Linked DNA regions of Homo sapiens. The protein of the gene in region 1 interacts with the protein of each later gene in a pairwise test. Each region holds a gene or a part of one and is shown on either strand. Other genes may lie near its edges.

Region 1 (3,918 bases):
GAGGTTGTAGTGAGCTGAGATCATGCCACTGCACTCCAGCCTGGGCAACAGAGTGAGACTCTGTTTCAAACAACAAAGATGAGTTGAGTGTAGCCCCTATCCTTCAGAATCTTCCAGCCAACTTGGGAGAGACTTAATAGCTATAGTAGAGGGATGTGAAAGATGCTATGAGATCTCAGAGGAGGAGAATTCTAACTCATCCTCATGCTTCAGAAAGAGGCTATTGTCCTGAGACTGAAAGCTCCAAAATGGATGGGAGAACTCAATAAGTTAGGGCTTACTATAGAAAGGACTGTGCTAGACTCAAGTGTAATGTGTTGAATGACTCCAGGTAATCTAGTGTGCCTCTTCCTGCTTTTCCACTTCAAAGTAAATTGTTAGATACAGCAGAGATGGGCTCTAGAAAGAAGTGGAAGGCCACATGATGGCATGTATGTAGTTCTGAGGAGGTCGACATTTGTCTGATAGAAACAGGAAACAATTGAACTTGTGACCTTCCTCTTTGGTTGGCCTTTAGAATATCAAGTCTGCTCTCCCAACTGTAAGCAGGAGCACAGCCTTGGAGTGACTCCTTAGTGCCACTGATACCTGGGAAGACTGTTGATTATTCAGTGTTTCAGTCCCACCTTTGTCTTGCTTTAACAGGAGCACTAATTTCCTTTCCTTTTCTCCTTTCCCTTGTCACAATGATTCTTTTCATTTGGTCTACTCCTGTCATTTTTTTTACCTACCACAAAGTTAGTAGTCCACCAACATATCCTTTCCCTTCTCAGAATGGAGTCCCGCCTGCCATTTTATCTTGAGGACCTTAAAAAATTAATAACTCTGGTTGTCTAACCTAGGGACTGGAAGATGACAAAAATTGTACTACAAAGAATTGGTAAGGAGTTATTGTAGCCTAGGTAAGAAAAAAAATAAGGGTCTTACTAAGACTGGCAGTGGAAATGGAAAAGAGGTAACACATTGGAGGGAAATTTAGGAGGCAGAATTGACAGGATCTGAAATGGTTTGAATATTGTTGAGGTAGAGAAGGAGGATTAGACAATCCAGACAACTGAATGGAAGACGGATAAAAAAATAAGGGAGAGAAAAGATAATTGGTGGGCTTGCATCTCTGAAGATAGAAGAAGGGATTTGATCTAGAATGCACAGGAAGAGATTAGCCTTAAACAGAAAGAAATTTTTTTTTCTCTGTGGTCTGAAGAGAAGGTCTGGTTGGGAAGAGCAGCCAGTCCACTTGCTTTTAATATGCCATGGGTCATGCCTTGCTAAAGGATGTGGTGATGGAGCTTGAAGGCAGCAACCTTTGCTTCTGTTTGTTTGTCCCACCTTTACTCCGGGGCTTGAGCCTCCTTTTCCAGCCCTCTTCCTCAGAATGGAGACCAGTGACCTTGAACAGAAAGCTTGGGAGACAGCACCCATCCTTACCTTCATCTTTACCCTCATCCTTCCCCACTGGTGACAAGTTGGGTAAGTCATGTCACTCCTGCAGGGCAGGCCCAAGGAAGGAGGGAGTGGTGCCTCTTTAGCCTCAGGCCAAAGCTGGCTTAGCTGATCAAATTTATGAGACAGCCTTTATGACTTTTTATATATTCTATCACTTTACTTTTGAAATTGTGCCTTAGAGAGTGGTGCCAGCCCATGCACTGTGCAGATATAAGTACTGAAATTGAGAGTTTCAAAAACAAAAAAAAACTGGTTCTTCACCACAGGTAGTTTAAGAAGCATTGCTTCATCAGACAGAGCCCTGAAGGGAACCAGATTTGCTGACATTGACTGAGTAAATATTTGGACTCCCTTTATGTGCCAGGCCCTGCTTGAGGTCTTGGGGATGCAGTCATGAACAAATGAGGCAGCCTCTCTATTCTTGGGGAATTTAAATCTCAGCAGGGAAAGACAGTAAATAAGAAAGCAAGTGAATAAGAAAATAAGGTAAGGCATAAGTTATAAGAAGAAATTAATTAAATTAAACCAGGAAAATGATATATACAGGATGCTCCAGTGGATTAGATGGTCAGTGACATGCTTTCTGAAGAGGCAACAGTTGGACTGAGAGCTGAATCATGAGGAATGGAGAGGGCAGCTAGTGCAGAAGCTACAATGAGTTTGATGCAGTTCAAGGGCCTGCTGGGTCACTGGTGCTGAATATGATCATAAGAGAGGCCTAGGTTGGGGAGGTGACAGGAGAGCCTCATGGGCCAGGATGAAGAGTCTGGATTTTACTGGATGGCCACTGAAAAGCCTTTGGAGGGTTTCATGCTTGGCCTTGTTTTTGTTTTAAAAGATCACCTTGGCTGTCATGTGGAAAACTCATGTTTGGGGGAGCAGGAGTAGAGTCAGACCAACCAGGAGGTTGATGTGGGTGAGAGCAAGTGCTGCCTAGGCCTAGAGAGGTGACAGTGCAGGGCAGGGGAGCTGGGTGGATGCCGATATGCTTTAGCGGTAAAGGAGGTGGGTGATAGGTGAGATGTGAGGATGAGAATGAAATGACATCGGGGATTTTGGTTTGAGCAATTGAGTGGTTCGTGTGGCTGTTTACTAAAATGGGGATGACTGGGGAAGAGCAGATGCTGATGGATATTGCTGGAGCAGGAGTTCTGTTGGGGCCTGTTAAGTGTTTTGTTTTGTTTTTTGTTTGTTTGTTCAACTCACTGCAACCTCCGCCTCCCGGGTTCAAGAGATCCTTCCACCTCAGCCTCCTGAGTAGCTGGGACTACAGGCACACATCACCACGCCTGGCTAATTTTTGTATTTTCAGTAGAGACGAGGTTTCACCATGTTGGCCAGGCTGGTCTCGAACTCCTGACCTCAAGTGATCCGCCCACCTCGGCCTCCCCAAATGCTGGGATTACAGCCGTGAGCCATCGTGCCCAGCTAGGGCCTGTTAAGTTTTAAGCACTTTAGACGTCCCAGTGTAGATGTTAAAAGGTAGAAAGGTGGAGTCTGGAGGTGAGGTAAGAGGTTAGGGCTGGAAATAAATATTTGGCAGTGAATGGTATTTTAAGTCAAGGGATCCCTCAGGAGAGTGTTTTATGGCTGTGTGTATATGTGCTATTTTATTTTCCCAGTAATGTTCAACTACTTAGTTTAGAAGAGGAAGAACAGAAAGCATAGGAAGTGATTTTTAACTTGTAGGATATTAGAGAGATTCATATTTTAAGAGTAGAGGGGTCCAGGTAGTGGACTAGTCCCGATTATGGTTATTACAGTTTGATGAAATGTGGCTGAGATCATTGGCACTGTGGAGATTAAGAAATGTGAGGTCAGAGTGTTGGGTAAATTGTTCCTGCGAGTGTTAAGGTTGTCAGGATAATGGTGGGAATGGGGTGAAGATGACAACTCAGCAATGACACAAGAAGAGAGTGACACAGAAAGATTCAGTAGCTGAGAACTTGAGCGTAGATATGTTGTGGGCAGGAGGGAAATGATTTGGATGGAAGTAGCCAAGTAAGTGAGAAAGGAAAGACTTTCCAACAAAACTTGGCTTAGCTCACTCAGATCCCTGAGCTGCAAACTTCTTCTATACCTTTCTTACCTTTTCCAGTGCTGCTGACTTCACCCCACTTGCAGGGCATTTGTGCAGATGGTTGTTTGTTGAGGAGGAATGTGCTTAATGTTTTAGGAACCAGTTACATTCAAGGATGCCTCTGTGGCCTTCACCGAGGAGGAGTGAGGTCACCTGGACTCTGCTCCCAGGAAGCTGTGCGGAGCTGTGATGCTGGGCAACTACAGAAACTTGGTCTTGGTGGGTAAGGACATGTGAACTTGGACACCTGCCCATTGGCTTCTTTGTTTCCTACTTCCTTTTTGACACAAAAGGATGTTTTCTGACTATTCTAAGCAGCTAAAGAACTTGGTAAAAATTGGAGAATGGTAGTTTTACTGGGTTGTCTCAAAAACCATACCTTTTCCATCCTT
Region 2 (3,918 bases), on another chromosome or scaffold:
TTGTGTTGCCCTCCCTGTGAAATCCAGACCCAGACGTCCTCTGGCGGGAGGAGCTACCATTACTTGGTCCGTTTGTCAGACGACTGCAGTCTTTACTTGTGGCCTCTGACTGTTCTACAGGTTCAGAAGCTGTAGTCCTGCTGGTACTTGGGGCAGAGGCCTGAGACTGCTGCTGCTGGTACTGAGCCAACTGCTGGCGTGTCTCCTTCAGCTGCTGCTGCAGAACTAGAATGGTACTCTGCATACCCTCTACTTCTTCATCAAGCTGGATGATGAAGTCATTCAGTTCTGTGCAAAGGAGAGTCAGACCAACTTTAATATCGTTTATAACATTGAAAAATGTTTCTTTAGTGCCTGCCACAAAGCAAGGGAGTCAATAAACGCTCAAGTAAACAAATACAATTCTAAAATCACACTACATTTAAAAATTTTGCTTGGAATCTTAAAATATGACTGAGTTTGTTTTGGGGGAAGTCAGATACTTAAAATAATATACAGTTGGCCCTCCACATGCAACAATGAATTCAAGCAACTGTAGAAGGAAAATATTCAAGGAAGAAAAAACTGGGTCTATACTGAACATGTACAGATTTTTTTTCTTGTCATTATCCCCCAAACAATACAGTAAAATAACTATTTTCCTAGCATTTATATTGTATTAGGTACTGTTAATCTAGAGATGGCTCAAAGGGGAAGATGTACATAGGTTTATATGTAAATATGACATCATTTTATATGAGGGGCTTACTGTGGGAGGTCCTGACACCAATCCACCATGGATACCGAGGGCAACTGTATTAAGCAACCAAGTTAAAATTGTTTTGATCCATCTTGCCATATGCCTGATTACAGCCCCAAAGTTTGACTCACGTTTACCTATGGGCCCACTATGGCCAATCCCCTTATTCCTGATCCAGTGCCTTAGTTCCATAGCAAGTCTGATCCTTAAGGATAGTGTGGTCCTCTATAACACTCCAAAGAGGCCCATGTTCTCAACCAAGGACTGTTACATATAAAAGGACAAAAGTCACAGGAAATAATTCCTGAAGATTTTGAAAAGGTAGGTAGTTCAGAAGAAATTACTTGGCTACTGATCATCTTTGCAATTAACCAGAGACACTAATTTTCAATTTAAAATTTCAAAGAATTTGGATATTTTCCTTATTAATAATGCACCTTACAAAGAAGAGAAACAGAGATACAGCTACACTTGCACTAAAAAGGATGGAGGCTGACAAGTTTTATCTCAGCAAATTTAAAGATTAAATCTCTTATTCACTAATAAAACCTTCACAGATACAATCAACTTTATTACTTTCAGATCGCTGAAAACTGCCCATGTTTCTAAGATTTACACTTAACGAGAAATGCTTATTCTCCCTTTCAAACAATGAATACAAATTTGTCCATCTTGTTAAGTAATACAACACCCTTTTATCTTTTACCAAATCCTACCCCCAACTAAAAACAAAAATGTAAGAAATTTTGAACAATAAAGAATTAGGAGGGTGGGGATAAACAAACTAAAATTATATGGCTTTGTTTGCGGACTCAACTAAAAATGCTTCACTCACAATAATATACAATCATAGGGCAGAGGTTAACAATGTACAGAATCTAACCTATAATATTCATGACTGGCAGTTTTAAAAAGCCAATGCAAAGTTGAGACAACGTTCCAAAAAGAAACAAACCCCTTACCATCCTGACTGCTTTTAAGCTCCTCACTGTATTTCTTCTGTAAAGCCAACTCTGCTTCAAGTTGTGCAATACGTCCCTGGGACAGCTGCCTTCCAAGCTCTTGATTCTCCTGGATAAGCATTCGACACTTCGCCATTAACTTTTTCCCTGTTTGGCTGCAAAGGAAAGAGCCATCCATCACAAAATGAAGACAAAACTCTCTGTCTTTGCTTACAATTATTACAGTGATAGATGTAACACATACAAACATAACTATATCACAGCAGATGCTTCCCCATAATTACCATCTTCTTTTCTGGGACACATCCATCTTCTGCATTTCAGTATTTTGCCAACACAGCAGTAAAAATAAACCCTAAACAAAAAGTGCCCAAACAGCTACACCTTGTTTCTATTACATCAATAATCAATTCTGAAATCCATCTATTTTCATCTCAAATTATCATTTGAAATGGAAACAGAGCCAGTTAATTAACACACACCTTGGCTATACCAGTATTATTACACTAAGGAATCTAGCGCTTTATCAGAAAAGTTCTTGAAAAGGTACATGCAACATCAATCACAAATATTTATGAAAATCAGTACCTACAAATAAAAATGAATGAGAGTATTTATTCTTGCTAGAAAAACATTTAATAAGGATTTTCCTTAACAGGAAGTCCTCCAGCATGGGCAACATAGACTCCAACTCTACAAAAAATTTTTTAAAAAGTAGCCAGGCACACATGCTTGTAGTGCCAGCCTCTGGAAAGGCTGAGGTGAGAGGACTGCTTAAGCCCAAGTGGTTGACGCTGTGACCATGCCACTGCATTCCAGCTTCGGAAACAGGGACCCTGTCTCAAAAAAGAGGAGGAGAGAGGGAAGTTTTCTGGTACATCCATCTTCCATAACTCTCAAGAATATTATCTATTATATTAATTGAGGCACATTCAGCAGTTAAGGTTTTTTTTTTAAAGACTTAAGACTTTATTGGAAAAGATCATCCTTTTGACACAAAAATAAGACCAGTGGTCACGTATCACAATTCAAACACGCAAATATCTGCCAATCTAGGAGTGTCACACTTTCCACAGATTATAGTTTCCAAATGCTAGTGCAACATACTACTGAACCTATGTGCACATACATAGCAATTGCAAATATGTAATGAAAAGCTCAAATGTTTCCCAATAAAATTTTACTGCTTTTCTTTAGCCTCAGCAATAAAAGGAGAAATTATTTGCTTGTTCTTGTAATTATTTATGAAAAAAGAAAAAAAAAGAAATGATCACTTTTAAAGGGATCTAAGTAAATAATTGTGATATTTACCTTTGAGACTTGGATAAAGACAGTGTGACATTCTTGTCCTTGGGGTAAGTCCAGGATGACCTTATGGGTTAAAACATTTTTTAAATTCTAGTCTTTCCTTCTTCTAGTGAGGCTTTCACTTGCCTGATACACTACTTCAGTATGCCTTATAAGTTTAAAAATGAGAGCATTTTGTAAATATTTTATCAATCTTTGAAGTGTTGCATGGTTCTTTCACCTACAGCATTTTTTTTTTTTTTTTGAGATGGGGGTCTCACTGTGTTGCCAGGCTGGAGTGCAGTGGCGTGATCTCAGCTCACTGGAGCCTTGACGTCCCCAGGCTCAGGTGATCCTCCCACCTCAGCCTCCGGAGTACCTGGGGACTATAGGTGTGCACGAGCACCCCCAGCTAATTTTGGATTTTTAGTAGAGATGGGGTTTCGCCTTGTTGCCCAGGCTGGTCTCAAACTCCTAAGCTCAAGTGATCTGCCTACCTCAGCCTTCCAAAGTGTTGGGATTACAGGCATGAGCCACCGTGCCTGGCTGCATGTTTTCTAACCTAATGTAATTCAAGGAAAAGTTTGTAATTAAGCTTTCTTCCAGAAAATACCTGAAGAGTTCAACCTGGGTTACTACTGCTCAGAGGAGCCCGAGGGTGAAAGCCACCAGTGAGCATGTGGTAAAGGCTTTATTCTTTGATATGATAACTTTATTAGCTGGTGTTCTTGTTCACTGCTACTGTAGCTCCAGATTTCCACCATTTCCCATCAGCACTCTCAGGCGTTAGCCTCCACTGAACATCCACTTAGAAATTAAACAATGGGAAAATGAGAGATATGCAAGATTGTCAAAAACAATGGAATTCCTTCCACTTTACTGCCTATGCTCTCAAAACTGTCTTCTTGCAAAGTATATATATTTCATTGG

What was found.
Region 2: the proteins of ZNF239 (region 1) and WTAP interact in binary tests that used the Homo sapiens proteins (3 or more experiments, as listed by UniProt).

Annotation. Positions count from the first base shown.
Region 1 is NC_000010.11:43,567,726-43,571,643, reverse strand, and holds part of ZNF239 (zinc finger protein 239), read left to right. Parts: exon of another isoform or gene 1-1,253; coding exon of another isoform or gene 1,254-1,470; intron 1,471-3,184; exon of another isoform or gene 3,185-3,622; coding exon of another isoform or gene 3,623-3,749; intron 3,750-3,918. UniProt on the Homo sapiens protein: May be involved in transcriptional regulation.
Region 2 is NC_000006.12:159,751,398-159,755,315, reverse strand, and holds part of WTAP (pre-mRNA-splicing regulator WTAP), read right to left. Parts: intron 1,857-3,918; coding exon 1,702-1,856; intron 289-1,701; coding exon 1-288. UniProt on the Homo sapiens protein: Associated component of the WMM complex, a complex that mediates N6-methyladenosine (m6A) methylation of RNAs, a modification that plays a role in the efficiency of mRNA splicing and RNA processing.